Regions from separate parts of the Homo sapiens genome. Here regions 2, 3, 4, 5 and 6 are each reported to be linked to region 1. The links are microRNA targets in miRTarBase. Many come from high-throughput screens and were not tested one by one. Region 1 holds a microRNA gene; each other region holds the end of a gene's coding sequence.

The links. Region 1 holds the annotated microRNA hsa-miR-151a-3p (CUAGACUGAAGCUCCUUGAGG, at 2,061-2,081, shown strand). A microRNA usually pairs through its seed, bases 2 to 8, with sites in the 3' UTR of a target mRNA and lowers its output. Matches are read on the target gene's strand: a 7mer-m8 pairs with bases 2 to 8, a 7mer-A1 pairs with bases 2 to 7 and ends in A, and an 8mer does both.
Region 2: the mRNA of MEGF9 is a reported target of hsa-miR-151a-3p. Seed matches in the 3' UTR shown: 8mer at 2,380-2,387 and 7mer-A1 at 3,901-3,907.
Region 3: the mRNA of SAE1 is a reported target of hsa-miR-151a-3p. The part of its 3' UTR that is shown has no 7-base or 8-base seed match.
Region 4: the mRNA of HADH is a reported target of hsa-miR-151a-3p. The part of its 3' UTR that is shown has no 7-base or 8-base seed match.
Region 5: miRTarBase lists TCOF1 as a target of hsa-miR-151a-3p. The part of its 3' UTR that is shown has no 7-base or 8-base seed match.
Region 6: the mRNA of ZBTB24 is a reported target of hsa-miR-151a-3p. Seed matches in the 3' UTR shown: 7mer-m8 at 1,738-1,744.

The regions. Positions count from the first base shown.
Region 1 is chr8:140,730,668-140,734,667 of GRCh38, reverse strand. MIR151A (microRNA 151a) reads left to right here and starts at 2,015; the gene lies at 2,015-2,104. All of the region lies in intron 25 of PTK2 (protein tyrosine kinase 2), which reads left to right.
Region 2 is chr9:120,601,577-120,606,576 of GRCh38, reverse strand. It overlaps MEGF9 (multiple EGF like domains 9), which reads left to right. Exons shown (of 6, transcript NM_001080497.3): 6 at 936-5,000. The coding sequence ends at 1,387. Among named protein-coding and RNA genes, the nearest start is that of CDK5RAP2, 24 kb to the right of the region's middle.
Region 3 is chr19:47,208,368-47,213,367 of GRCh38, reverse strand. SAE1 (SUMO1 activating enzyme subunit 1) reads right to left here. Exons shown (of 9, transcript NM_005500.3): 9 at 2,732-4,209. The coding sequence ends at 4,117. Among named protein-coding and RNA genes, the nearest start is that of MIR3190, 16 kb to the left of the region's middle. RefSeq lists enhancers at 2,342-2,636, 3,628-4,377.
Region 4 is chr4:108,033,398-108,038,397 of GRCh38, reverse strand. HADH (hydroxyacyl-CoA dehydrogenase) reads right to left here. Exons shown (of 8, transcript NM_005327.7): 8 at 3,227-4,159. The coding sequence ends at 4,041. Among named protein-coding and RNA genes, the nearest start is that of HADH, 46 kb to the right of the region's middle.
Region 5 is chr5:150,397,823-150,402,495 of GRCh38, forward strand. TCOF1 (treacle ribosome biogenesis factor 1) reads left to right here. Exons shown (of 27, transcript NM_001371623.1): 25 at 532-629; 26 at 1,200-1,248; 27 at 1,988-2,471. The coding sequence ends at 1,226. CD74 (CD74 molecule) reads right to left here. Exons shown (of 9, transcript NM_001025159.3): 9 at 3,817-4,428. The coding sequence ends at 4,418. Among named protein-coding and RNA genes, the nearest start is that of CD74, 13 kb to the right of the region's middle. RefSeq lists enhancers at 1,157-1,316, 1,597-1,666, 2,227-2,316, 2,387-2,466, 4,027-4,296 and 1 more.
Region 6 is chr6:109,462,181-109,467,180 of GRCh38, forward strand. ZBTB24 (zinc finger and BTB domain containing 24) reads right to left here. Exons shown (of 7, transcript NM_014797.3): 7 at 414-4,394. The coding sequence ends at 3,671. It also overlaps a transcript of MICAL1 not described here. Among named protein-coding and RNA genes, the nearest start is that of MICAL1, 8.9 kb to the left of the region's middle.

The DNA.
Region 1 (4,000 bases):
ATTGCTTGTTCAGGTGCCATTTTGTGGCTACTACTTTGTGCCAGGTACTGTTAAACCCCTGGAGGAAGCACGCAGGGACATTAGTGTGCTGAATCCCTCAGAGAAGCATGTGCATACTCTACCCTGTTGCCTGGCCTGGAGAGGTTCTTGTTCGCTTGTGCATGTCCCCAGCTACACTCAGAGCTCTTGACGGGCATCATTGTGTCTTACTGATTTCTGTAGCCCCAATGCCAAGCTTAGAACCTGGCACCATATAAGTGCTCAATAAACATTTGTTGAATTGAATTGAATTGGAGTCTAGAATGAGACTTAATACTGTAATAAACAAGATACTGTAATATAACACATAGGCATGAGAAGCTTTATTATATAAACAATACCATGGTTCAGTGTGTGCTGTGTCACCTGTTTTCACACTTGGGGACTTCCTCCATTTTATGTGAGTTTTTATGGGTTTGTTTTTCATGCTGTATTTTAGTCTTTTTCCTAAAAATCATCAACTGCAGGGTCCAGGCCTTTCACCATCTAGCCCAGCCTTCTCACCACATGTTCAAGCTGTTCAACCTGCTAGACAGGATTCCTTTTAAGGAGAGTATTTCAAAGAAGAATTAAGACCTATAGGTAGAAGCACAAAGGATTCATCCAGTCTGAAAATGTTTGCTAAGCACCTTTGTTATTCTAAGCTAGGTTCTGTGGGTCCAACAGTGAACAAGACCCAATCCCTGCCCCCAGAGAGTTTAAAGTCTGGTGGAGGAGACCGAGGTATCACTGGTTATTACAATACAGTGAGCCCCACATTGGAAAGACCAGCCACGCTCTTGGTCTCCGTCCCCATAACTCTCACACACCGGCCTGGTTCTACTTTTCAAGGCCCCATAGAACAACCCTACTCTGCCTTTCACACGATAGGCCTTCAGGGTAATTCTAAACAGCTTCCTTACCTCCTCTTAGTTTCTTCAAGCCAAAAATCTTCAGTTCCTTAATTAATTCTCATATAACTTAACTGCCTATTCTCTCACCTTTACAGCTGGCTTTTGGACATGCTTTATTGCATGTTGTTTTGCTCCTATTTGTTCCTCCTTGATCTTTCCTCAGGATTTGACAGATTCTGTCCTTGGCATTGTTCCTCTCTGATACCAGTTCTATCACCCCACCTCCCTGGCATCTCTTTCTACCTCATTGACTTGCCATCTCTCCACCTTTACCATGAATATTAACCAAATTTCTGTTTTCAGCCTCTTATTTTCTCCCATTTTCTCTCATTACTCTTCCCAGGATGTCTGACCCATTCACATGGCTTTGCTGCTTACCTCTGTCTGTCTATAGTTCTGGTCCTGCCCTTTTCTCAAGTCCCAAACCTACATTTTAAATTGCTGGCTGGGCATCATGTTTATCCAGAAAGCAAGCTGTTACATTCTCTTCTATGCCAGCCCTTCCTCCTCACTTCCTCCAGGTTGGAATAGTGCCTTTATCTTCGGCACCATCTTGGAGTCATGCTTCACTCCTTGTGCCTGCCCCCCACCCTCCATCCCACGCTCTTTTCCCATCTGTCTGGCATGACCAGCTTAGTCAATCTTCCTGAAATGTCACTGGAAAAATAACTCCCCTGGTCAAAACAACTTTCAGTGGGGTTTTGTCACCTTTTATGTTTGGGTAAAGGCTTCCACAGTAACATTTAGGCCTCATTTCATTATGGCCTGAGATTGTCTTCTCATCCCTTTCACACACAGTAGCTAAACTAACCCTCCTGTCAGCCCAGAATGCCTCCTTCTTCATTTGGGGAGATCTTACCCATCTTTCTCGGCTTCTTTCACGCACTGGGTCTTCTGTGACTTCACAGCTGACTAGCCTTCACCCTCTGAGTCTCCAAAGCTCTTTGTTCTTCTTGTCAGGCTTACCCTATGCTGCTATAGATGGCTGCAACCCGTGTTCAATTCAGTTCGATAAACACTGTTGAGCACCTACAGTAGCTGAGCCTGGTGCTAGTCACTGGGGCAAAGATGACTAAAACACTTTTCCTGCCCTCGAGGAGCTCACAGTCTAGTATGTCTCATCCCCTACTAGACTGAAGCTCCTTGAGGACAGGGATGGTCATACTCACCTCGGTGTTGCCCAAACCTCCAGGCCAGTAGCCTAGCTAGCTAGATACAGGAAGAGTCACCCAGGCACTGAATTCAAGGCTTAGAACATATGAGTGATTCTTAATACTAAGGAATGCTCCACTGAGGTAAATTATCTCCAAAAAGTATCCAATACATATTTTTAGAACTACATATAATTACTTTAAATAGGTACCTGTAGTATAATTTATGGATATCTTCTTATATACTACTAGCACAGGTAGTTGAGCATTCATTCATTCTGCATTGTTCTGTTTTAGAAATGGTGTTTAACTTTGCGTTTTGAACATATACAATTAGGCTACCAAATAGGCCACCATTTTATATTATAAAATGTCACTATATAATATAATTGCTTACTTGGACATTTGCATATAACAGTGTATCACAATAACTAAATAGGTTATTAATTTTTTTCAAAATTTTTATTATTTCCAAGATTTTAACAAAGAAATAATAAGTTTGGATAGCCCTTTGGTCGTTAAAATTATGGTAGTTAAAAATGTTTCCCAAATCCCATTCTTCTTCTTGACCTCGAAAGAATTCTCCTTCCCTACCTTGAAAGAATATTTGCAAGTAGACTCAAATTACTGTGGGATTCCCCTCATCTTTAACTGGAGTGTATGCGTGTGTATTTTATTTTGTTGAGGCGGGGTCTCCTCTGTTGCCCAGGCTAGAGTGCGGTGGCACCATCTCTGCTGCCTGCAACCTCCACCTCCCATGCTCAAGTGATTCTCCCACCTTAGCCTCCTGAGTAGCTGGGACTACAGGCATGCACACCACACCACCACACCCAGCTAATTTTTTGTATTTTTGGTAGAGATGGGGTTTTGCCATGTTGCCCAGGCTGGTCTCAAACTCCTGAGCTCAAGCAATCCACCCACCTTGGCCTTTCAAAGTACTGAGATTACAGGCATGAGCCACCATGCCCAGCCTTGTATATTTGTTTTTGACTATATTAGTTGAGAAGTGATTTTTGGTATGGAACATGTTGGGCAAACTCATAGGAAAATCACCTTGGTCCTACTTTGATGAGGTGATGTCTGTGACTCAAGGAACCTGTCCTTCCTACATCCTGTTTACTTATTCATAGGTATGAATTCATTGAGAAGTAGAATGAGATTAACCTGCCAGTGGCCTATTATCAAGTATAAAAAATTCCTCAATAGGAATACTTTCAATTGATCAACAGTGAAATTTTCTTATAATGCGTACTCTAGCATTTTTGTGCTTTATGACTGTCAGGTTATAAGAGCGCACCAAATATTTTTTGAGTGAAAAATCATTTAGCCGGGCGCAGTGGCTCAAGCCTGTAATCCCAGCAGTTTGGGAGGCCGAGGCAGGTGGATCACCTGAGGTCAGGAGCTCGAGACAAACCTGGCCAACATGGTGAAACCCCGTCTCTACTAAAAATACAAAAATTAGCCCGGCGTGGTGGCAGGCACCTGTAATCCCAGGTATTCAAGAGGCTGAGGCAAGAGAGTCGCTTGAACCTGGGGAGGCAGAGGTTGCAGTGAGCCGGTATTGCGCCATTGCACTCCAGCCCGGGAGACAAGAGTGAGACTTTGTCTCAAAAAAAAAAGGGGGGGGGGGGTTTAATTTAATTCCTGGTTACTTCAGTTAATTCTTTGTTAGGTACTATGACAGGGAAACCATAATAAACAGCTTTATTATTTGCCTTTTTGCAGGTATGTTCAAAAATAATATGTCCCAACAGTACTCTTCTTGACTAAGGTGTTGGTACCACTATTTTAAAAAAGAACATCAGCTTTATCTCATATTAGAAAAATATTTTAGGTTAATGTTAAAATTCTTAAATATATTTTAGGCAAATTAGGGCAGTAAACACAATTATCACTTTAAAATTTTGTGTTATGATT
Region 2 (5,000 bases), not on the chromosome of region 1:
GCCATTAGAAATACAAAGTATAATACCTAAATTATAAAGTAGCTGTAATCTACACAAAGGAAGAATTCCTACACATGGAATTAAGGAAAGCTGTTTTCTCTCTTGGCTGATGTCAGCCTCAGACATTTAAAATTTGTTTTTCAGACATAACTAGAGGTATAGTTTTCCCTACACCTCCTTTGCAGATAATTATTTTACCTTTATGAAATGCCATCAGACTTGTTAGACTTATTTTTGTTCAAATGATTGCCATATATCCCTGTTACTTTTAACTATGTGATTTAGAGCTCAGTAGTGACAAATTTACTGCCTTTGCAGGAATTTATATGATTTTATCTAAGAGTAAATAAGAATGGAAAACTCCAACACTGGTATTTTCCCAAAGATTTTTTTTTTTTTTTTTTTTGAGACAGAGTCTCGCTCTGTCACCGAGGCTGGAGTGCAGTGGCATGATCTCAGCTCACTGCAACCTCTGCCTCCCAGCTTCAAACAGTTCTCTGCCTCAGCCTCTCGAGTAGCTGGGATTACAGGCACCCGCCACCACGCCCAGCTAATTTTTTGTATTTTCAGTAGAGACAGGTTTCACCATCTTGGCCAGGCTGGTCTTGAACTCCTGACCTCGTGATCCACCACCCTCGGCCGCCCAAAGTGCTGGGATTACAGGTGTGAGCCACCACGCCCGGCCCAAAGATTTTAATGTAGATATTATACATATTGGAAAACAGCCATAGATGTAATAATCTAGCTTTCTAGACCCTGATTCTTACCCTTATCACTATATTTCTTTAAACATTATTTTTAACTTGCATTACCTTAAAGCAGAATATCATGTTAACATCCTACATCAACATTCACTCCCATGCGTATTTCTTTTATTGTTTCTCAAAACTAGATAATTTTGTCTTTTACATTTCATTCTCTGTTTTTATTTTCAGAAGTTATTCTTCCAACACCTGAAGGTTCTACCATTTTGGTTTCCAATGCCTCTTTGACCACATCAGTGCCCACCCCTGTTATAAATAGTACTTTTACCCCTACAACCCTGCAGACTATCTTTTCAGTAAGCACTTCTGAAAACAGCACTTCAGCTTTAGCTGATGTATCATGGACCCAATTTAACATCATCATTTTGACAGTCATCATCATTGTTGTGGTGCTGCTAATGGGATTTGTGGGGGCTGTATATATGTACCGCGAGTACCAAAACCGGAAACTCAATGCCCCCTTTTGGACCATCGAGCTGAAAGAAGACAATATCAGTTTCAGCAGCTACCATGACAGCATTCCCAATGCAGATGTTTCGGGATTGTTGGAAGATGATGGCAATGAAGTGGCTCCCAATGGGCAGCTGACCCTGACGACGCCCATACATAACTACAAAGCCTAAGGAGCTAGAACTGTTCTGAATTGTTAAACCACAGTGCTTGCTAAGACAGAGTCAGCCCCTGGGCCAGACAAAGCCTGGCTAGAGTTTGCTGAGAAAGCAAAGGCAAATAGTGCATCTGAAATTTTCAGGTACAAATTTGTAATGCGCTTAGCCTATCTATTGCTCTTAGTTTTCCCATGAAGATCTGAAGCGTTCACTGTCATTAGGACTTGAAGTAAAGTATATTTTTGTACCAAACCACATGGGAGTATGGAAAGGCTGAACCCCATAGTGCAGCCCAAAACCACTTTGACCTCCAGATAGACTCCTGGGGAAGCATTCACCAAGCCAGTGGTAACAAGATGATGAATGTGGAGGGGGAAAAGACTGCTGGAAGACTTCATCTCCATTCCTGAAACATTTTTTTTAAAACAGTGTCAGGGATTATATTCGTTTTACTATACAAAAGGACATCATTGAGGAAAAGCTTGTTTCTAGGCTGTATCACAGTAAATAATCTTGATTGTTTCTAGAACAGGGGTAGAAAAGTCCCAAGATCTTCAGAAGGGCTTGGTTTTTTCCTCCCAGGATTCTTGCTCAGTGATGAGTTGAAAGCACAGGATAAGCTTCTAAGGGAGGAAGGCAGCATTGGGGAGCAGGAGGCTGATGGTCCTCCTCAGGGTCTCAGTGTAAATGATAAATTGTCTAAAAATAAGGAATATTCCTGCCTCTAGAGAAATAAGGTGTACATAGTTAATGTAGCATATCTGGTCGACGTTGTATTTGTATCTATTTGTAAAAAAAAAATCATGTCATATTTTATCATCTGGAATTTATTTGTACAGCAGTTAATGGTGTTGTAAAAAGAAAAATATGGGGATTGCTTAAAATACTGTAAAATAGATGGCAATATTGCTAGAGCTGGGACTCTGGTGAGCATCCGTCATTTTTAGTCCTTCTTGAGGACATTGCTGAAATTTATAAGAGGTCGAATGTTTCTTTCTTTCCTTTCTCAGTCTAAAAGTAGAGTTATATGCTCTTTGACTTACTATGATTCAAGCAATAGATTTTGAAGTCAGTAATCGTTAAGCTGGGACATAGGATGCATTCTCCAAAAACATTAATCTAATTAGACATTAGCCACCCTATATATTTTACATAGATTAATATAAAACATATCCTCATTAAAAAATGTTTTTCTTGAATGTAAAAGATAGTCTTCCAAAGGATAGAAATATTTTAGTTCCAAGAGAAAAGCCATCATATTACTTGGGATCTGTAGTTTTCATGCCTATGAAATATTTATAATCCTCCCTCACCCCAAATAAAAAATCTCCTACATGTGAACATAGCCTGTCACTCATTTGCCATGAGGTATGTGCCATCTCCCTGCAGTGCTATAGTTCTCCCATTGTCTTCCTGTCTGGTTAATGAGCAGCTTTGTAGATGGGTGTGTCTAGTTAGTTCTTGCTTTTTGATGGAGTTTTTTCCTAGAGGCCAACTACTGTTGCTCTCGTTTATTATGATATTGACATTTTGGGTTAAGCAAGGTGGGTGGGAAAGGTGGTCAGATGTTAAATATAACTTATTAGGAGGAACAGTGAACTGTGAAGTGGTTAGAAAAAAAATAAAAACTTCTTATTAGATTAGACCTAGGAAATTCAAGCTGACCCCTTTGCCTAACTTCCCTAGAGAAAAACCTAGAACTTGGTCATCCCTTTATAGGAGACCCCTAAGTTGTTCTCAGGGTTTGGAGATGATGTTCTGGAGGGAGTACAAGCAAATAATCTACTTCTGGTAATCTGAGGGTGCTTTGCGTATTTGGCCATTGCTCAGAAGAATAGAGGTTACATTATATTACATTATATGAAAATTATTTAGTTTTTCTATAGCCCTTTGTAGTTTGCAAAGCACTTTTCCATATGTGTGTCCTCTCTTCCACACCATAGCCCCCTGAGGAAGTAATTGTTGTCCCCATTTTATAGATGAAAAGGCTGAGGCACAGAGGAGCTAAATATCTTGTTCAAGGCTATACAATGTGTGTGATTATTAGGCTTGGAATCAGGGCCTCTAACTCTAAAGCACATGTTTTTTCAACTATATGCAGAAATTGCCTAGCCATGGACACAAGAAAGCTGGGAGGAAGAGTTCTACTTGTGGATGTTTTTAATTTTTTTTAAATATCAGGAGCAATCCAGGGCCATACAGCTATGAAGCACTTAGTGAAAAGAACACAAGAAGATTTACTAACTGAAGTTAGTATTAGTGATTAGAAAACAAAACTGCCAGTTTGTGCTTCATTAAGGTGAACTCATCTCTCCAAGCAGGAAGGGAAAATTTGCTTTCCCTAGCAGTTGCTGCATATGTGTGTACAGACTGCACAATTCTAAGAAATTGTGCAAAATGGCATACCTGTCTTTCTCCCAGATACACCGCCCCCTGCCCCCCCCAAAAAAGGTCAGGATTAAAGGTGGTGAGAAGTGAACATTTATTAAACAGAAGTTAAACCAATAGAGAGAAAGGAGGTTTGTTGGAGTCTAAGAGGATTTTGACCATGTAGAAATTCCTTGAAACAGACCTTAAAAGGTATTGAAAAATTGAATCACAAAGAAAGTTTACCTTTAAATACTTGTTAATGGCTCCTAGATCATGGTTATAATTTTTCTCAATGGGAAAAAAAGTCTTAAAATTTGTTTTAAATAAGATCCTCTAATGTCTCGAGCTTTTTGATTCTGGAAATAATTTGCTTTAAAATATAAATCAATCAGAAAGTGATCTACCACTGAAATCATTCTAGGAAACTAGCATGGGATGCACTGCACAATGTTCTTTCCTCTAAAGGCATGGGCCCCATAAACTGTGGCATCTGGCAGCAGGATGCCATCAGTCCTTTAGAAAGCCTAATTTTGGGCCGGGTGCGGTGGCTCACGCCTGTAATCCCAGCACTTTGGGAGGCCGAGGCGGGTGGATCACAAGGTCAGGAGTTCGAGACCAGCCTGGTCAACATGGCGAAATCCCGTCTCTACTAAAAACACAAAAATTAGCCGGGTGTACGTGCCTGTAGTCTCAGCTACTTGGGAGGCTGAGGCAGGAGAATCACTTGAACCTGGGAGGCAGAGGTTACAGTGAGCCGAGATGGCGCCATTTCACTCCAGCCTGGGCGACAGAGCAAGACTCTGTCTCAAAAAAAAGGAAGAAAAAGAAAGCCTAATATTGGGAGAATGTTTGTGTAAGGATTGGAAATCTGTTTATTTTTAAATAAGATAGCACTGATGTGAATCTTATTTGGAAATTACAGATACTGCCATTAAGCGATGCTTTTATCTTCATTAATTCATTTTGGTAAGCGCCTATGCATTTCTGATGGTTAGGTGCCCTAGGTAGTGTTAAGTATGTCCGTGTCCTCCCTTACTCCCCTCTCGCTCCCTCTACCCTCTATCCCCTAGGGTTCTTTTATTAATGGAATTTCTCCAGTTATAGAGAAAAAAATGACATTTGAAAACTAAAGCTCATTTATATTAATACTAAGGTCCTGTGGGCCTAGTGCGTTACTCTTCCCAGTGATACCTAGATTTTAAGAGTAGAGAACAGAGGAAACATGGGATGAGAGGAGAGAGGTTTTTTAGACAACATT
Region 3 (5,000 bases), not on the chromosome of region 1:
TGTCTCAAAAAACAAAACAAAATAAAAAACAAGAACCAACTCCTAAAATGCATTTTTATACTTGCTAACCCTGGAACTTGGCTTTGGGAAGTCTTTCCTAAGTGTGCACAATGTCACACAGCAGCAGACTGATTCAATAGTTAATGGTTCACCTGTTTTGGTTATGGAATTTGATGCATGAAATACTGACAAGGATCTCCAAGACATATTGAGAAAAAAGCACATTGGAGAAAAAGTTATTTATGAATATGTAAAATAGCAGCTAACATTGAGCAATATTGATTCAAAGACTGATTTTTTAATCCCCACATATCTGAGGAATGTGCCACTATTCTACCCATTTTAGGGATGGGGTAACAGAAAGTAGTGTAGCGAGGGTCACATGGCTGAGTGGTAGAGTCTAGGTTTGAACATGGCAGTCTGGAAGGATTCACTCTCAACAGTTAACAGGGGTGACCTCCGGGGAGTGGATATGAAAGTGGATAAAGCTAGGCTGGGCGCTGTGGCTTACACCTATAATCCCAGCATTTTGGGTGCTGAGGCAGGTGGATTACTTCAGGTCAGGAGTTCGAGAGCAGCCAGGCCAACATGGTGAAACCCTGTCTACTAAAAGTACAAAAATTAGCTGGGCATGGTGGCCGGGGCCTGTAATCCCAGCTACTTGGGAGGCTGAGGCAGGAGAATTGCTTGAAACCAGGAGGTGGAGGTTGCAGTGAGCCGAGATCACACCACTGCACTCTAGCCTGGGTGACAGAGCAAGACTCCGTCTATTAAAAAAAAAAAAAAGAAAAAAGAAAAAGAAAAAAAGAAAGTGGATACAGCTAACATGTCCAAAAAGCATCTCATATTTCTCTCCAAAATGCAGTTTAGCTGTGAAGTCAGCTGCTCTTATTATGTGGCCAACATTGTGCTGACAGGCTGTGCCCTGCAGCGGAGAGGAATCTTCTCTTTATGCTTGTATATTGCTTGAATATCGTACAAGCTTAGGAACCAAATCCACCCACCCTTTTGGACCTAGTTGAAGGCCCTCTTTTATGAAGGCCGACATGATGTTTTCCAGTGACTACTGGGTCTCAGGGACTTGTGAAGGGAAGCCCAAAATCTTGTTCTCACTGAGCGAACAAGCCGTGCCACTACATGAATCTCTACTGAGTGCCCCGCACCGCAGCTTTCCCAGTCAGCGCCATTTCCATCTCTCCCTTGCTTGTGAGGTGAGCCTGTTTCCTTATCTCCAGTATGGGTAGGAGAACAGCATCTATCCCCATGGGGTTGCTGTGGGGATTCCAACTCAAAGAACAAGGATTCTGAAAAGTACCAGGCAGGTTGCATGGGTATAATGACCATTGGTTGTTATCATTAAACTTACCACCTGCAACCTAAGCCATCTCTTCCACACCTGTAATGAGCTAATAGAACATACGTCAAGATAACTTTTTTTTTTTTTTTTGAGATGGAGTCTCGCTCTGTTGCCCAGGCTGGACTGCAGTGGCACGATCTCGGCTCACTGCAACCTCCGCCTCCCAGGTGCAAGCGATTCTCCTGCCTCAGCCTCCTGAGTAGCTGGATTACAGCCACGCGCCACCATGCCCAGCTAGTTTTTGTATTTTTTTTTTTTAGTAGAGACGGGGTTTCACTATGTTGGTCAGGCTGGTGTTGAACTCCTGACCTCGCGATCCGCCCGCCTCGGCCTCCCAAAGTGCTGGGATTTTTTTTTCGAGACAGTGTCTCACTCTTTCACCCAGGCTTCAGTGCAGTGGTGAAATCCAGGTCATTTCAGCCTCAAACTCCTGGGCTCAAGTGATCCTCCTGCCCCAGTCTCCCAAGCAGCTGTGACCACAGGCACAAGCCACTATGCTCAGCTATTTCTTTTTTTGTGGAGATGGGGTCTTGCTTTGTTTCCCAAGTTGGTCACGAACTCTTGGGCTGAAGTGCTTCTCCCGCCACAGCCTCCCACCATGCCTGACTGACTGCAGATTTTGAGATGGAGTGTCACACTGTTACCCGGGCTGGAGTGCAGTGGTGCGACCTCAGCTCATTGCGACCTCCGCCTCCCAGGTTCAAGTGATTCTCCTGTCTCAGCCTCCCCCAGTAGCTGAGATTACAGGCACCCGCCACCATGCCCGGCTAATTTTTGTAATTTTAGTAGACAGGGTTTCACCACGTTGGCCTGGCTGCTCTCAAACTCCTGACCTCGTGATTCGTCCGCCTCAGCCTCCCAAAATGTTGGGATTACAGGCGTGAGCCACCACGCCTGGCCTTTTTTTCTTCATTTTTATGATTAATACAAACATCATGTGGCAGTTTATGAAATTTGTAGAAACTAGACATTTCTTGCCTGGGGCTGGCAGCTTTCCCCTCGATTCCTGAGGGGTCCTCTGGGTGACTTAATCTCTGCCGTTAGAGGTACAGGGTGGAAAAGTTTGAAGCTTCCGGGACGATTCTACAATTTTGTTTTTATCAATCCAGACCCACCTGCTCCCCCTTGTGACCAAGGCTGCACATTACAGTCAAGAGTATAATTAGCTCAGAATTTAAAGACCACGTGAAATTCATGCAGCAATGTAACTGCTGACCCTGACGCCACTGACTTGCACTAAAGGTGGCGAGACACGGATCCTTTCCGAAATGCAGCCCCTGTCTCACCTCCGGCGGGAGCAGGTGATGCAGGGTTGAGGAACAGAGGCCCTTCTGTAGTGAAGACCACTTTTCTCCCCGACTAACTGCTGCAGGATCAGAATAGGAAAGAGACTGATTTATTGAAACATCACACAATTTACATAAAGAAGAAACACAAGCAAGAGTGGGGTGAACTGGAACGCACTTTGGCTGCATCAAGGCAAACCTGGTCTTCCAATAAAAGCTCTGACCCGTAGCGGCTGTGGCACTTGGGGCATATGAAGCATCACTTTTGACTTCCCTTTATTATTATAATTCTTGCCACTGAAAATAGCCACTATTTAGCTGAATTATCCATTAGACAACTGGAGCCAGAAGCTTCTACACATTCTAGAATGTGAACAATTTAACTCTTGCTGCATCACCCAGAAAAAATGGTGGCAGGAATGGTGAGGGAGAGGAGGAATCTCTTGAGTTAGAGCCTCAGGTCTGAAAAGGCAACTGGTAGGATCATCCCATTCCCTCTCAGAAGCTTCTGAAGTGGAAGAAAAACAAGCAAATCCTAAAGCAAGTAACTTTATTATCATTCCTTTAAAAAGAACCAAGGAAAATTCACAACATATGTGAAACACAAACAGCTGTGGTTTAGGAGGTAAACAAAGGACCAACATAGCCCTGAAATGCAACAGCCTCTGAGTGACTTGAGCCGCATGTGACTGGGGTTCTGTTAAAAGGGCAGGCTCCTCCCTCCTAGCCCTGAAGCCCCAGGAACCTGCCTTGAAAGACAAGCTCTCTAATACTCAACTTGCAGGGTCTCGCCCTAACATCCAAGACTTGGTAGCATCTCCTTTCTCCCAAAACCCAGCTGGAACTCAACTAATCCTAAACGAAAACTCAAGAACAGCACACCAGATGCCACCTGTTGTTTGTCAGGGTCTCAAACTCCAGAGGAAATGCATTTGCCTGTCATGGTTTTCCTCTCTAAGGGCACCTGTCTGAACTTGGAGCTGTGCTTCCACTGGTGCCTCATGGGGCCTGGGCCTACTCTCCACCTGAATTCACACTTTTCTCTATAAGGTATCAGGTGGGGAATAAGTCCAAGAAGGTGACAAGAGGCTCCCGAGCAACAGAGCTTGCTCATTCCTGGCAGGCATCTCCCACAATGCCCCAGAGGGCTGGCGAGGCCGGGACAGCATAAGGACAGAGAAAGGGCAGAGGGGTGCTTGGAAGTGCTCATCACTCAGGGGAGCTGGCAGGCCCGGGATGACAGGCAGCCTGAACAGTGCTGGAACAAAGACAGCCACCCTGCGCCCCTTGTCGAGCAGCTGCTGGTGATGGGAAGCAGCACGTCGGCACCACCTCCTTCGTTGCAGGAAATGTTTTGTATCGGGCCAATGACTTCAGTTTTCCTTGCCTGGAGATGCCTTCATGAAGGAAGGGGACAGGGAATACAGGTGGGCATGCTGCAGTTGGCATCTCTGGGGCTGCCAAATCTTGAGTTCACTTGGGGCCAAGGCACTCCACAATCCCATTCCCCTTCATGCCATCGAAGAAGAAGAAGTTGTTGTGAGGAGGGTCCCGCTGAGACAGGGCCTGGGGAGAAAAATGAAAAGAGGGTTTAGCTCAAGTGCTTTAAGAGGAATAGAGGGAAAAAAAAATTCTAAAAGCAGTCTAGGGCAGTGGTTCTTAACTGGGGTCGATTTTGCTCCCAAAGGGCTATTTGGCAATGTCTGGAGACAATTTTGATTGTCCTATCTCCTTGCTCTGTCCCTTACAAGCTGTGTGTCCATGGGGAGATTATTTAACCTCTCCAAACATTACCTTATTTTCCTAACATGAGATTAAGAAATGTATTTGCCTGGGTTAAACTATGTATCTCAAAAATGTAAAACAGGCCAGGGCCAGGCACATTCACACCTGTAATCCCAGCACTTTGGGAGGCTGAGGTGGGAGAATCACTTGAGCCCAGGAATTCAAGACCAGTCTGTGCAACATGGTGAGATCCCGTCTATATGAAAACTAAAATAGGTGGGGCGCAGTGGCTCACGCCTGTAATCCCAGCACTCTGGGAGGCTGAAGTGGGCGGATCACCTGAGGTTGGGAGTTGGAGACCAGCCTGGCCAACACGGTGAAACCTGTCTCTACTAAAAATACAGAAATTAGCCGAGTATGGTGGCATGCTACTCGGGAGGCTGAGGCAGGAGAATTGCTTGAACCCAGGAGGCAGAGGTTGCAGTAAACTGAGATTGCGCCACCGCACTCCAGCCTGGGCGACACAGTGAGACTCTGTCTCAAAAAAAAAGAGAAAAAGAAAAATGACATAAATTAGCCAGGTATGGTGATGCATGCCCAAGGTGCCAGCTACTCGGGAGGCTGAGGTGGGA
Region 4 (5,000 bases), not on the chromosome of region 1:
CACAGCCAAATGGATTCTTTCAAAGTATAGTACTGAAAGCACAGCCATGATTTCATTGTTCAAAGCATTTTTTCGATTACTATTTATGTAGCATCAATGCCTGTTTATAAGAAAATTAGTCTCATAAAATTATAGCCACACCTTATACTTTTGGTAGACTTAATGAGTTACTTAGGTTGAAATGTTAAAGGGATTAAAATCAAGGTGGGGACAAGACAAAAGCTTGTTTCAAATATGTGAACGGTATAACTCACAAAGAAAGCATAATTAGTGTATGTTGTTGTATAAGCTGTGACTAACATAGTGGCTGTAACCTCTCCAATGATGACTAGTTGAATCTCAAATGGGTTTCTGAAAGCTGATGTGTTAGTCAAAACACTTACTATTAACGGAACCCAGTGGAGAGTCATTTTCTTTTTTTTTTTTTTTTTTTCTTATTTTTGAGACAGAGTCTTGCTCTGTTGTCCAGGCTGGAGTGCCATGGTGCCATCTCAGCTCACTGCAACCTCTGCCTCCTGGGTTCAAGCGATTCTCCTGCCTCAGCCTTCTGAGTAGCTGGGATTACAGGTGCCCGCCACAACGCCTGGCTAATTTTTTGTATTTTCAGTAGAGACAGGGTTTCACTATGTTGACCAGGCTGGTCTCAAACTCCTGACCTCATGATCTGCCCCCCTCGGCCTCCCAAAGTGCTGGGATTACAGGCATGAGCCACTGCACCCAGCTGAGAGTATTTTCTAACACCGGATTTGTTCATAGTAGTTTCCGAGTTCCAAGACATGGTTCCACCTACCCCCACGCTGTGTCATTGAAGTTCCCAAAGTGGAAATACGCTTTACAATTGATGTCAGAAAAAGTTAACCATTTTCCCCAGAAAAACTACTATTAACAGTGAATCTTAAGAACATGAAAGGGCCATGATTTTCATTTTACAAAGATATCTTGAGTTAAAACGATCCTTCAGAGAACTCCATTTTACTAAACAGAATTGAAGTCTAGGTGATGGCTATCAGAGGCTCACCATCTTTTTCAGCAAGTCATCTCATAAGTTGCCTGGTTTTCTTCTTAATCTCAAACTTTCACTTGTATTATAGGTAAATAAAAATATCACTGGCCGGGTGCAGTAGCCCACGCCTGTAATCCCAGCACTTCAGGAGGCTGAGGTGGGTGGGTCACGAGGTCAGGAGTTTGAGACCAGCCTGACCAACGTGGTGAAACCCCGTCTCTACTAAAAATATAAAAATTAGCTGGGCGTGGTGATGTATGCCTGTAATCTCAGCTACTCGGGAGGCTGAGGCAGGAGAATCGCTTGAACTCAGGAGGCGGAGGTTGCAGTGAGCTGAGATTGCGCCACTGCACTTCAGCCTAGGCGACAGAGCGAGACTCCGTCTCAAAAAACAAATAAATAAATAAAAATATCACTAAGGGGAAGCATAGGAGAGAGGAAAAAAAGTGGCCAAGTACGGTGGCTCACGCCTGTAATCCCAGCACTTTGGGAGGCTGAGGCAGGCAAATCATGAGGTCAGGAGTTCAAGACCAAACTGGCCAGCAATGGTGAAACCCCGTCTCTATTAAAACTATAAAAAATTAGCCAGGCATGATGGCACACGCCTGTAGTCCCACCTATTCGGGAGGCTGAGGCAGGAGAATTGCTTGAACCTGGCAGGTGGAGGTTGCAGTGAGCCAAGATTGTAACACTGCACTCCAGACTGGGCGACAGAGCAAGACTCCATCTCAAAAAAAAAAAAAAGTATCCTCTTGACCTAAAACTTGGTCTTTACTTTCAAGTGTCATAAAAGATTCATGACGGTTAGGAGGCAAGTTTGGGGAGGTGAGGAGAACCAAGAGCAGTGACACCAGGCCCAGCAGCACTGCCAGGACCCACCCTCCCTCTTGAACAAGTGCTGCCAAAACACAGTGGAGGATGATGCAAGGCACCTGGGGCTCTCACTGAGGCTCAGTTCTTAACCACAGACTGAAGCAAACAGCAGCAGCGGGCCTATATTTGGAAGCAGAGAACCTGACTGACATGACCTTCCCTCCCCCCGCCCCAAGAGCTCTCCGTGGCAAGCAGCTACGTTCACCTGAGAACGCAGAGACATGGAGTTGGGAAAGAAAAAGCTACTCCCTCACCTCCCATGTCTAAAGGAAGGATGTTCAAAATTCCTTCCTGGTCCCAAACACGGTGCATGGAAAATATTTTTTGAAAACGATAAAAGGATATTGAGAGGCTAGGCCTTTTGACTATTTGGTAGGCTTAAAGTGTATTTTAAAATGCCAGCCAGAAAGACTGCTGCAGCCCCTACCTTCTCATCCCGGCAGTCTGATAGTTGCATTGCTGAGTTACATCTTTCCTGGAATTCAGTGGTCAAGAAAGAACCCTGCCATTTCCAGGACAAGGGCCTGCATCCTATGGGGACTCTGGTGAGACAGTAAGGAAGTGAAGCCCCCACTTAGGCCCAGGGCTCATGCCAAAGGTCAAGAGCCAGCCTGAGAGAGCAGGGAGCTGTCAGACCACAAGGGTAACCTTTAGCGATGGAAATGCGGGTGGCCTCACAGGTGCTTCCTTTGGTTCGTTAGGCAGCATTTTATAAGAATAACCTAAAAGTGTCCTACCCAGGTTCTATGTGCGGTACAAATGCACCGATGTATTTATTTTCCCACTATGTTATAGATTCAAAATTTTTAAAATTAATAAGCTCCCTTTTATCAGTCATAAAATGAAGAAAAAAAATCTCTTGACTATTAGACCTATGACCCAGAACACCAAACAAGGATGCCCATTTTAGGGAGAGTCCTGTCTGAAATTTTGGATCGGAGATTTTCAAATGGGCTATTTTGTACTTAATTTTATCAAAACCTAGTTCTAGTCTAGGCTATGTGACAAAATATCTAGTGACTTTGGGCACATCCCTTAAGCTTTCTGCTAATGAGGCTATTGGACCTCAGGATTTCTGATGTCTTTCCAACTCCAAAATTCTATCTTGGAAGACACTTTCTTAAGCCAATGATTAAAAGAAGCTTACGTTACACTACTTCACTTTGTTGGCAAAGAAGAAACAGATGTTCCTTAAAAATTGTTCTCTGTGCCCTTATTACTGCTTTCCTGGTAAGAAATCTGGCAGCGACGGCCCCAGGCAGGTTTTACACAAATGCCTTGTCCTGCCATTCCCTCCCCGTCACTCCCACTTTAAAAATTAACAGCAGGTCAAAGAAGAGGAGAAATAGCTTCTGCCTAAATTACCAACTTTTACTTTTATAATCATTTGAGTGTATTACAATTTTATATTATACATTTTTTTCAATTCAAATTTTCAGACTGAAACATTGTTATTTTAGTAGAGTCAATTTATAGGCAATTTGCAACAGTGATTTCTCATGGAAAAAAGACACAGACAGACAGTAATCATTCAGATCTGTGGAACTGAATGACCATGAAAACCGACCTCCTGCAAACCATGCAAACAGAGATATGCTGACCCATTCAGCAGCAGCATCTTCACGACGAGCTGAATAAAGACACATCTTATGTCATGCCCAAAATGTAGGGCAAGACTCAAAGCTGCAGGTAGTAAAATGTTCTTATAAAGGCAAGATCCAGGTGCTGCTCGCTGCAGTGCTTCACAGACTATACCACTTGCTTGCCAGTGGCTTGTGACTCTCCCACGCAGCAACAGTGAGCATGGTGCACTCGCACTCTCAGAGGAAGTACTTTCCCGTTGATGAGAGAAGGAATCTAGGCAATTCTTCACAAAAATGACAAGGTTCAAAAAACATGTTTGCTCCAAGGCACCAAGGGTGTAAAGCTGTTTAGAAAATACACAGAAATGAACAGACTAAAAAAGGGAATTATTTCTTAATGGAGAATCTATTACTGCTGTAACTGGTGTAATAATCACTTCGATAGATTACAATCAAAATGCACATTTATTAAACTGTACTGTGTGAGGGAATGTCTGACCAAAGAGCATTCCCACAGGCACTCGGGGCACTGGCTGGAAAGCGCTCTCAGGTGTTCTTCTCAGAGCCGGAGAAGCTGCACATCACTTGTATTTGTAAAATCCTTCTCCAGTCTTCTTGCCGAACTTGTTCTCTGCTACCAGCTTATTTAAGGATGGGCTGGGCTGATGTAATGGGTTCTCTGCATCCATTTCATGCCACCCTATTGAGCGGAGGGAAGAGAACTCAGGATGAAGTGCTGGGTTTATTTTTACATCTTGGCATTTCCAAGGACAAGTCTGGAGGCCTGCCTCTGATGTGGGAGAGCCCCCCAGGCATGGCGCCCCTCCGGCCACCACTGCAGAGGCACCAAGGAAGGCTGTGCTGGTGCAGCCACATCAGCCCCAAAGCTGCTGCACTGCCACCCACCTGTGCTGCCTGAAGCCTGGCCCTACTATGGTCCTCCTGCTTATCCAGTGTCTTCTCAGAAATCACTACGGCCAAAGGCCCAAGTACACTGACAGAAGCCATTAATTTGCTGGTTGGATTCATCACTGGCACAGTTAACTTTCAGAATACACGTTAAAAAATCTGCATTCCTGCCATTGGTATTTTGCATCCACATAAGATTCAAAATTTAATTCTTCAACTAGCATTCTGTGAAACTTGGGAACAGATAGCTACATTCAACTTCAGTAGTCCAGTTTTAATTATTATTTTTACCCTGTCTTCAGAGCTTTTACATTACAATGGATATATTTTTTAAAATGGATGTGTATCTTGCTTGCAATGGAGGTTACACAAATCTATTGATGTGATAACACAGTGTACCAGTGTCAATTTCCTGGGATTTAATATTGTACTATGGCTATATAACCACTGGTGGAAACTGGGTGAAGGGCACACACACAAGACCTGTCTGTGCTATATTTGTAACTTCCTGTGAATCCATAAAGGTTTTTTTTTCTTCAAGGTCACCCTGTTAAAGAGACACTAGACAGTCACATTCTTCCTTCTCCTGACATCTGTTCATGAATTCTCAACCTGGTGAGGCAGGATTTTGG
Region 5 (4,673 bases), not on the chromosome of region 1:
TAGTCATCCAGGTGGTCCATGGATGGGACAGAAATCATGAGCTGGCCTCCAGGGGGCAGGTGAACTGGCCCTGCTGGGTGATCACCACAGCTGCCAGCCTGTTTTATTTTTATTTTTTGAGACAGGGTCTTGCTCTGTCACCCAGGCTGGAGTTCAGTGTCAGGAACGCAGCTCACTGCAGGCTCAGCCTCCCAAGCTCAAGCGATCCTCTTGCTTCAGCCCCCCAAATAGCTGGGACCACAGGCGTGCACCACCATCCCCAGCTAATTTTTGTATTTTTTGTAGAGACAGGTCTCACTATGTTGCCCAAGCTGGTCTTGAACTCCTGGGCTTAAGCAATCCACCCGCCTCAGCCTCCCAAAGTGCTGGGATTGCAGGAATGAACCTCCACGCCCCGCCCTGCTGGCCTGTTGTGATGGCTTCTGGTGGTGTGGGGAAAGCTGGGAGCCCTGCCCTGTGCACCTCCCAACATTGACCCCAGCACTTAGGATTACCATCTGTTGTTCAGGAACTTTACTTTACTTCCCTTAGGAAAAAAAGACAAAGAAAAAAAAGAAAAGAAGAAGAAAGCAAAAAAGGCCTCAACCAAAGATTCTGAGTCACCGTCCCAGAAGAAAAAGAAGAAAAAGGTAGAGAGTTCCTGGGGTGTCTCAGGCCAGAAAACAGACCCAAACCCAAGCCCCCTCCTACACACCCAGACCTGGTTCCTGCCCCCTTCCCATTTTCGGGGCCCAGTCGGGGGCGTCAGGGGTTGTGACACACCAGGGAAGAGGCTGGCAGGGCATGTTCCCTGAGCACATGGAAGCCGTAGAAGTGGCCTGCCGGAGGTAGAAGGGTGTTGGGGAAGGAAGGAGAGACTCCCCCCAGCACAGGGAAACCAGGTAGACTGTGGCAGGTTTCCAGGTGAAAGGAAACGTTGCCTGGGCTGCGTGTGCCCCAGCTGGCAGGCTAGCCCTGAACAACAGCTGTCCTCACGGCGCGGGGCCTTAGCACCTCAGACACAGATGAAGTTCTCACCTTGGCCAGCAGGGCCTCAGCTGTATTTAGGAGAGCTGAACATCTGTTTGCCTCTGCCCTTGGAGGTCGCTGCAGACCCAGTATCTATTCTAGGGGAATTCACTAGTCCTCAGGAGGTGGGGGCAGCAGTGGGTGGGGAAAAGCTGCAGGTCTGAGAGCCTCTCGTACTTCCCTCCTCACAGAAGAAGACAGCAGAGCAGACTGTATGACGAGCACCAGCACCAGGCACAGGTACGCTTCCCAATCATTCCTGAGCATTCAGGGTGGGAGGACAGCTCTGGTGTCCCCTGTGGTCCCAGAGAGCCAGGCAGACCTGATAGGTGGGCTCTAAGGGGAAAGGAGGCTGGGGAAAGAGGTTCTGTTGCCAAGGGTCCATGGGGCCACTGGGGTGACATCAGGAGCTGGCACTGCAGCATCAGAAGGATCCAGAACAGTAATGGCAGTGGTGACACCGAGTGCACCTGGGTGCAGGGGTTGTGCATGCTTTAGGGGGTGTGCCCTGGGATGGAGCCTGTTTGTAGGTGAGGTCGGATACAGCTTGGTTCCTCCTTCACTTGTGAGCGGTTCATTTTCCTCATGATCCTGTAACTTGGGGGCATTTCCTTTTGGGAAGGAAGATGGTTTACTCAAGATGAGCTATCACCATGGATCTATGCTTCCCTATGGAGGACAGGCCCTGCCAAGTGGTGGTGACAGTTAGCTGCTCCACCTGGCTCTGCTGGCCCTGTGGTCACCCAGCCTCCTGTAAATGGGGGTGATGCAGAGCCCGCCTCCTGGGCCAGTGGTGAGGCTTATGTGAAGCTAAACTAAACACTAAAGGACTCAGCCCAGTTCTCAGAACATTCCAAGTGCTAAAAAATGTCCACTGTGGTTAATGCCTCCCCCCTGCATTGGAGATGCCAGATTTCATTTTCCTTGCAGGGGAAAAGGGTCAGGAAATTTGACATCTGCATGTGTTTCCTTCCCCTAGGGATTTCCTAGCCGAGCAGTGGCCATCCCCATGCCTCTGACCTCCACCGACCTCTGCCCACCATGGGTTGGAACTAAACTGTTACCTTCCCTCGCTCCACAGAAGAAGACAGCCAGCTTCAGGGGTCCCTGTGCTGGCCAAGCCAGTGAGCCTGCGGGGAGGCTGGTCCAAGGAGAAAGTGGACCAGCTCCCATGACCTCACCCCACTCCCCCAACACAGGACGCTTCATATAGATGTGTACAGTATATGTATTTTTTTAAGTGACCTCCTCTCCTTCCACAGACCCCACATGCCCAAAGGCCTCGGGACTTCCCACCACCTTGCTCCACAGATCCAGCTAGGCCTGACCTGTGCCTCATCCCGTGCCGCTCGGTCTCTGGCTGATCCCGAGGCTTTGTCTTCCTCTCGTCAGTTCTTTTGGTTGTGTTTTTTGTTTTTTTTTTAATAACTCAAAAAAAAAATAAAAGACTTGGAGGAAGGGTGCAAGCTCCCAGTGCATCTGGGGCACATGTTTCTTGGAAGGGACTGTCTCGCCGACACTCGGGATTCCCTCTTGCCTGCATGTTGAGGCTATGGGTGACCGTGGTTAGTGGGACAGGCAGTGAGCAGTGAAGTGCCTGAGTGCCGAATTGGTGGGGAAGGCTTCCTGGATGAGGTGGCATCTAAACTAAAGGATGGAACTAAAGGATGGTCATGGTTGATTTCCTGTTGCCAGAGTAAGTCATGTAAATACCCAAAGACAAGAAATGGAAGGGGCTGAGAATCCTCGAGTTAGGCCTCGAGCTAGGGGCAGGCTCCCTGGAGGTGCCTGGTGAACAGCTGTGGCAGGCACAGCAGGTCTAGGAAAATCGGAAGTGAGTTGCCCCTCAAATCGAGCTCACCATGGTTCTGTGGTGGTGAGGGCAAGAAGTGGATGAACATGAAAGACAGGATGATGTCTTGGGTGTGGACTGAGGGAGGGGAGGGATAGCAAAGGAGGTGGTCTGCTGCTCCAGCCTGGAAATGCAGAAGCCCACTTCCCTGGGCCCAGAGCCATGTGGAACACCAGGGGTCCTGGAGATGGTCTCCAGAGCTTTTAGCCTCATGCTGGAAACAGCCAGAGGCAGTGCAGAAAAGGAATGCATGGCTGGAGGTGTCGGAGACCCAGGTTGGCATCCAGCTGCACCCTTGACTCGGGGCCCGGGGCCAGACCCTCCACCATCTGGCCTCTCTCCTCTCAAGCATGTTGCTCTAGAACAGAACTACAGAGTAGTGTCCTCATTGGGCCTTGTTGACCCACAGCAAGACTTTAAACTTAAAAATGGGGTGATTTCACTGCAGTTCTTGATTTCTGGCTCCTCTTAAAAAGATAACATCTGGCAACGGGGGCTGTGCTTCCTCCTGGCAGCAACCAGATAGAGCTGAGTAGCAGTCAGCCCCTTAGGTAAGGCATGGGCACCCAGTTCTCCACAGTCCCCTACTTCCTGTCCATCCTGACACGGAGGCCCTATGTCGGTTGCCATCTGTCATCACATTCACACTGTTCTTAGTATAGAAATGAAATTGGGGACATAGGAAAATGAAAGCTGTACCAAGAAGAGCTTGTGCTTAAACTAGGCAAGAGCCTATTTCTTTTTGGAAGTAGAGTGTTCGTGTGTGTTAAACATGTAATCAAGTATGTCTGTGTCCAAAGACTACAAGCCCCCCCCCAGGCCTGCCTGGCCCCGCAGGCATCTCTGTGGGTTACTTGGGCTGCGTTCTCCCACCTCAGTGACTGGATTTAGCGTCTTTAGTTACCTCTTTAGGATAAATGAACTGGATCTCAACAGAAGAGCCAGGAGCCAGAGTGTTCTAATTACTACCTTTTATTCTAATGTGAACCATGGCCCTGAAAGCTGATAACAAGCTTGGCTGAGCAGAGGGAACTAGGGGTCGGCAGAAAGGATTATGGGTGGAAAACATTGGCTCTTCCTTGGGGAGTGATGCTGGGGAAAGGGAAGAGAGTGGCTCAGCCTGCAGGTAAATAGGCTAGAAAAGCCAAGGCCAAAGGCTGGAGGGGAGAGGACAGTCAGCATGTCCAGCCTGGGGTCTGGGTGTAGGGTTATCCCTTCTCCCTGTGCCTTCCCATCTCGTCCATGAGCCTAGGTCTTGGAGCCTTGTGTTGGAGGCTGCTGTGATGTCAGGAACGGGGATCTGTCTAGCTTTTGGCCACTTCCTGGGACCTCACGCCCCTGTTGACAGATGGAGATTGGGCAGCAGGGCCTTGCTGCATTGTTATCTGCTGTTCCGACTTGGTTTGTCTTGTCCAAGGGTGACGAAAGAGCCAGGCACCAGGGTCTCATGGGATGAGGTACAGGGTGGGAGATGGGGGAGGGGCTGGGGGCTGAAGGGAGCAAGAAAGCTGTAGCTGTGTGGGGCTGGCAGGATGTTGAAGACCGCCTCTGCTGCTCTCACATGGGGACTGGAGAGAGAAGCAGCAGGTTGAGGTTGGGGTCACCCATTTGTTGTCCCTGCCCCTTTCTAACATCCTGGACCTGCAGAGCAGTTAAGGACTGTCCACCCTCCCCTGCCCCCTGCTCAGGTCCAATAATGACCATCATGGATTTGTGTAACTCCCCACAGCCCCCCAACCCTGTTCCTTCGTCTGTGAAATGGACATCCCAGGAATGTTGGAGAGTGGCCCAGCGTCACACTCCTTCACCTGCC
Region 6 (5,000 bases), not on the chromosome of region 1:
AAAGAGAGTAAGACAGAGGGAAGGACATGTGAAGATACAGGCAGGGGAAGACAACTAGAAGGGAGGCCTCAGAAGAAACCAACCCCACTGACACGTTGATCTTGGACTTTCTATTTTTTCAGTCACCCAGTCTGTGGTATTTGTTATGGTAGTCATGGCAAACTAATATACCAGTCATGAACAGAGGGGACTGGAGTCCTCCAACCAGAGGGTGCTATATTGTAAATCTGTGTGCCATGACATGGAAGATGTTTGAGACCCAGTAAGATATGATACAGATTTAACAGACCTGGCTTGGCTCCTGGACAATAGTAAGGACTCCATATTTGGAAGATATTGTTACATTCCCATTTATGAAAACCTAGATAAGCATCTATAATGAGAATCCTAGGTAAGCATTTATAATGAGAATCTTTTTTCATTCCTCAGCATCATTTAATCTGTTGCTCACAACATTTATAACACAAGAACCAACTGTAGAAAATACAGAGTAGAGGTGAGTTTCAAGAAGCACTGGGCAAGCACTTGAATAACTGATTTTGATGGTAAGAGCTCCAATCATCCCAAGGCAGACCCTCTTCTGGGAGAAAACCAAAGATTCACCTTCAAAACGAGGTGTTTCAGGAGCCCCAAAGCATAACATTCTATTTCCTAAGAAACACACTCTATATTTCTGTTAAAACAATTTAAAAAATGGTACACATTTAGTAGAAAATGAATTGTGAAACACTGCACTAGCAACATCATTTCTCAAGGACACATGAGAAGTACTTTCATGTTCACGACATTTCTTTTGGGTACTCAAGTCATTTAACTTTTTTTTTTGAGACGGAGTCTCGCTCTGTCGCCAGGCTTGAGTGCAATGGCGTGATCTCAGCTCACTGCAGCCTCCGCCTCCTGGGTTCAAGTGATTCTCCTGTCTCAGCCTCCCGAGTAGCTGGGATTACAGGGGTACACCACCACGCCCAGCTAATTTTTGTATTTTTAGTAGAGATGGGGTTTCACTATGTTGGTCAGGCTGCCCTCGAACTCCTGACCTCGTGATCCGCCCACCTTGGCCTCCCAAAGTGCTGGGATTACAGGCATGAGCCTCCACGCCCGGCGTCATTGAACTTTTTTATTCAAAGGGGTAGAATGTATATGTGGGACAAAGAAAGAGGCTAGATTAACAAAGCTATCATTTCCTTGTTTCTCTTTGACAGCTGGTCAAATAATTCAGGCATAGCTAGGACTGATGCTCAAGTTAGAAACAGGTGGCCCATGCTGTCCAATATAGCAGCCACTAGCCACATGTGCTTATCAAGCATTTGCACTGTGTCCCATGCAACAAGGAACTGGATTTTAATTTTAATAAATTTAATATAAATTTTTAAACTGATACTTATTTCAATTCTTGAAAAAAACTTTTGTCTTAGCTACTTGATATGAGAATCTGTTTTCAACTGTAAGTTGTATGAAATCTAAATACAGATCAAGTATGTCCAATGAACATTAGCATCCAAATGGAGATGTGCAGAAAGTGTAAAATACACACCAGATTTCGAAAGCTTAGTATGAAAAAGAGAATGTAAAATGTCTCACTAATATATTTTTATATGTTGAAATATTTGGCAAATGTTGGATTAAATAAACTTTTATTAACATTTTCACCTGCTTCTTTTTATGTTTTTAAAAGTTGCTACTAGAACATTTAAAGTGACCTATGTTGTTCATGTTATAGTTCTCTTAGTGTAGAGGTAGACTGTTATAGAGCCAGTGAAACTTGACTTATAAATAGCTATGTAACCGTATTTTCTGAATAATCACCTAGCTATCCAGAGTGAGTAAACACTCACTTACTTAAATATTTAATTTCCTGGAGAAAATGTGGATTGGTGGGCTTTGAAAAGTTGGTAAAAACTTTGTGTTTTAAGAATAAAATTAAACAGTTTAAACGAGAACCTGAAATAATACTTAGGGCTTAACAGTGTTTGTAAAAAATTGTTATCTTTGCTCTAGTCAGGCCTGATTTAACATTAGTTTGGTTGATACATATAAGATATATATCATTTTGGAAGTTTTGTGAATTACATATAATAAAATATAGCTTAGCAAATATGCAACCAAAATGTTTTTATCTTCTCTCAAACCTGAAGAATTCTCTATTACTCTAACCTCCAAATAACTTATTTGATTTAGGGAGAAATCAAGGATGTCTAAAACAAAACAATTGATGGAAAGGCTCTATTAATTTTAGAGTAGATTACCCCCTACTCCCCATCAGCATTGTTAATTTAGATATACTAGTGCCCACCTTCTTTTCTCAAAAATCCCCTACCAGCTTACATGAAAGTGGTAAAAGAATTCAATAAGCTTAGCTTGAAAACCTAACCCAAACATAATTTAATCTTTTGATGATGATTTAAAAATCATACAATTACAGACACATGCTGGCTACAAAGTCTCTGAGGCTCAAAGTTTTAAGATTAGATGAAGATTAGCTGGGTGTGGTGGTACATCCCTGTAGTCCCAGCTACTAGGGAGGCTAAGGTGGGAGGGTTGCTTGAGCCCAGGAATTCGAGGTTACAGTGAGCAATGATTGTGCCACTACACTCTGGCCTGGGTGATACAGTGAGACCCTGTCTCTAAAAAAGGAAAGATTAGGAGAAGATATTCACTTTGTGGGATTTAACTAGTCTGCAATAAAAATGAATTATAAGCTTCCATCTCCAGAAAGTTATCAGACACAACACGTAGATCAACATTTTCAGGAGATCAGTTAGAATTCAGTAGAGTATATATAAGACTTAAATTACACTGAATAAAGTTTTATGTTCCAGAATAGTGAAGAAAGCTTTACCTTCATGAAAATCAAATCTCTTTTCTGACAAAAATTCAGAATTTAGGGTGAATGTCTTGATCCAATTTTGTATTTTAAACTTAATTAAAATTTTGATAGCCTTCTGTTGAAAAATATGTAAATTTATGTTTCTCAGAAAAGACGAATTCAGAATTTTAAGAAATCCTATGCTTTTGGCTATCTTGTTACATGAATTTTGAGTTAAAATACTGAGTTTATGAGTTTGAATCTTTCTGAAGTGTTAACACAATAAGCCCACTGTACTGCATAAAGATAAAACGTTGAGGGTTACTTTGTCTTAGGGGACTGGAAATTATTAAAAGGGCAAATTCCCCATACATTGTGATCTGTCATATTTAGCCCTGACTTGTCTTGTGGTAACAACTGTGTTGCCTAAGAAAAATAAGAAAATAGAACAAACCATTCTGCCCAGTTCAACCAAAATGACTCCCTTTGTCCTAGAAAACAAAAAAACATAACTGGGGAGGTTGGCAAGACCATAACCTATGGCTGTGAACATTTAAACCTTACAGAAAAACTGAGATCAATGCCCCCAAAGAAAAACTACCCGAGTCTTTATGAGACATTGCAGATTAAAATGAAAACCATTCAATAATATTGAAATGCTCAATACAAATCAGTACCTTAGACAAGACATACACACATCTTGCTACCTGGATGGAGGGCATTATAAACATCAGTTAGCCATCACAGCTCTCACAGAAGCATCTGCAAGTCAATGGTGTGGAGAGCCTGATTTCAAGCGTTCAAAATCCAGTCAGAGCTGGCTTATAAGAAGAGCCCAATCAAGCAGTCAAACGTGTTTACAGGTCAGCTCTGCTCCTGGCCAAGTGGCGTTGGCTGGGGCACGTGGTGAGTGGGTGGTGGCGGACCAGGCTCCTGTGTCAGCTGCAGGTGCTGAGCTGGATCTGAAGTACTTGTAGCTAAATGGAGCTCCTCTGTTTGCTCTTGATGGGCATGAAGATGTTCCAGTGTTTCCTTGGACAGAGTGATCACGTGCACTGGCTCTGTTTGTGAGGGCCCCATCTGGCTTTCAATCATATTGAGGCTCTGAATGTGTTCTGTTTGCTCCTGTTGAGCTGAAAGAATTAAATTCTGCAGTTGCTCTGGCTGCTGCGTGAGCAGGGTAAGATTAGCAGCCTGGTCTGCAGTCATGTTTTGGGAACTCTCTGCAGTCACAATGCTGATTCCCTGGCTAGGACCGGGCATGAAATTGATGTTATGTACAGAATCGGTTACGAGAAGCTGAATTTCCTGCTCTCCCGAGGTAGAGAGTTGATATGGCTGTAGCTGAAGAATATTCCTGACCTCTTCTGTATTACTACTGCCAGAAATGCTGCTGGCATCTGAAGCATGCTTCTCCTTGCTATGAATTTTCAAGTGAGCCTTCAAGTTGTCTAAGCGAGCAAACTGTAAGTTACACTCAGGGCAGGAGAAAGGCTTCTTGCCAGTGTGTAGAATGCAGTGTCTCCTTTTGGCACTGGAGTCAGAGAAGGATTTGCCACAAATGCCACAGGAGTATGGCTTTTCTCCTCTGTAAGAAAATAAACATTTTATTTTTAAAATGGAAATACCTACTTACTACTTCCTGATTATTTAGGGGGAAGCAATCAAGAGTAGTGGAAAATTAACTAGACTGCAAGTCATAAGTCATGGGTTCACCTACTAATTCAAGGACTTGAAGCAAGTCTCGCTTCCATGGGCAGTTTTTAATCTGAAAATAGGGTGTGGGTGGTGCCTGAGGAAGGGTGGCAGATGGGGCACGGCTATATATGATAAAATTTTATGATTCCACAGTATGTATTTCAGATAAGAAAAGAGAGTAAATATTTATACAATAAACATATAGTTCTCTTTTGTTTTGTCTTAGTTTTCAGAGCCAATTTTTAGACTCTAATGGCCCAATAAGTATCTATGATTAATGTCAATTTAAAAAATTTAAGCATCCTCTAATTATTTGTGATGCTGTCAGAAGAACTCCTAAGTCCAACCTGGGGATAACTGTGTAAACAAAAACATTTATTCAGAAAACATCAAATTTAATACTTATTTTTGATTGAAGATTTAAGCTTTGGACCAATCCGTAGCCCCAATCAAAATTTAATAAATGAAATCAGTAATGTAAACTTTTACTGGCCAG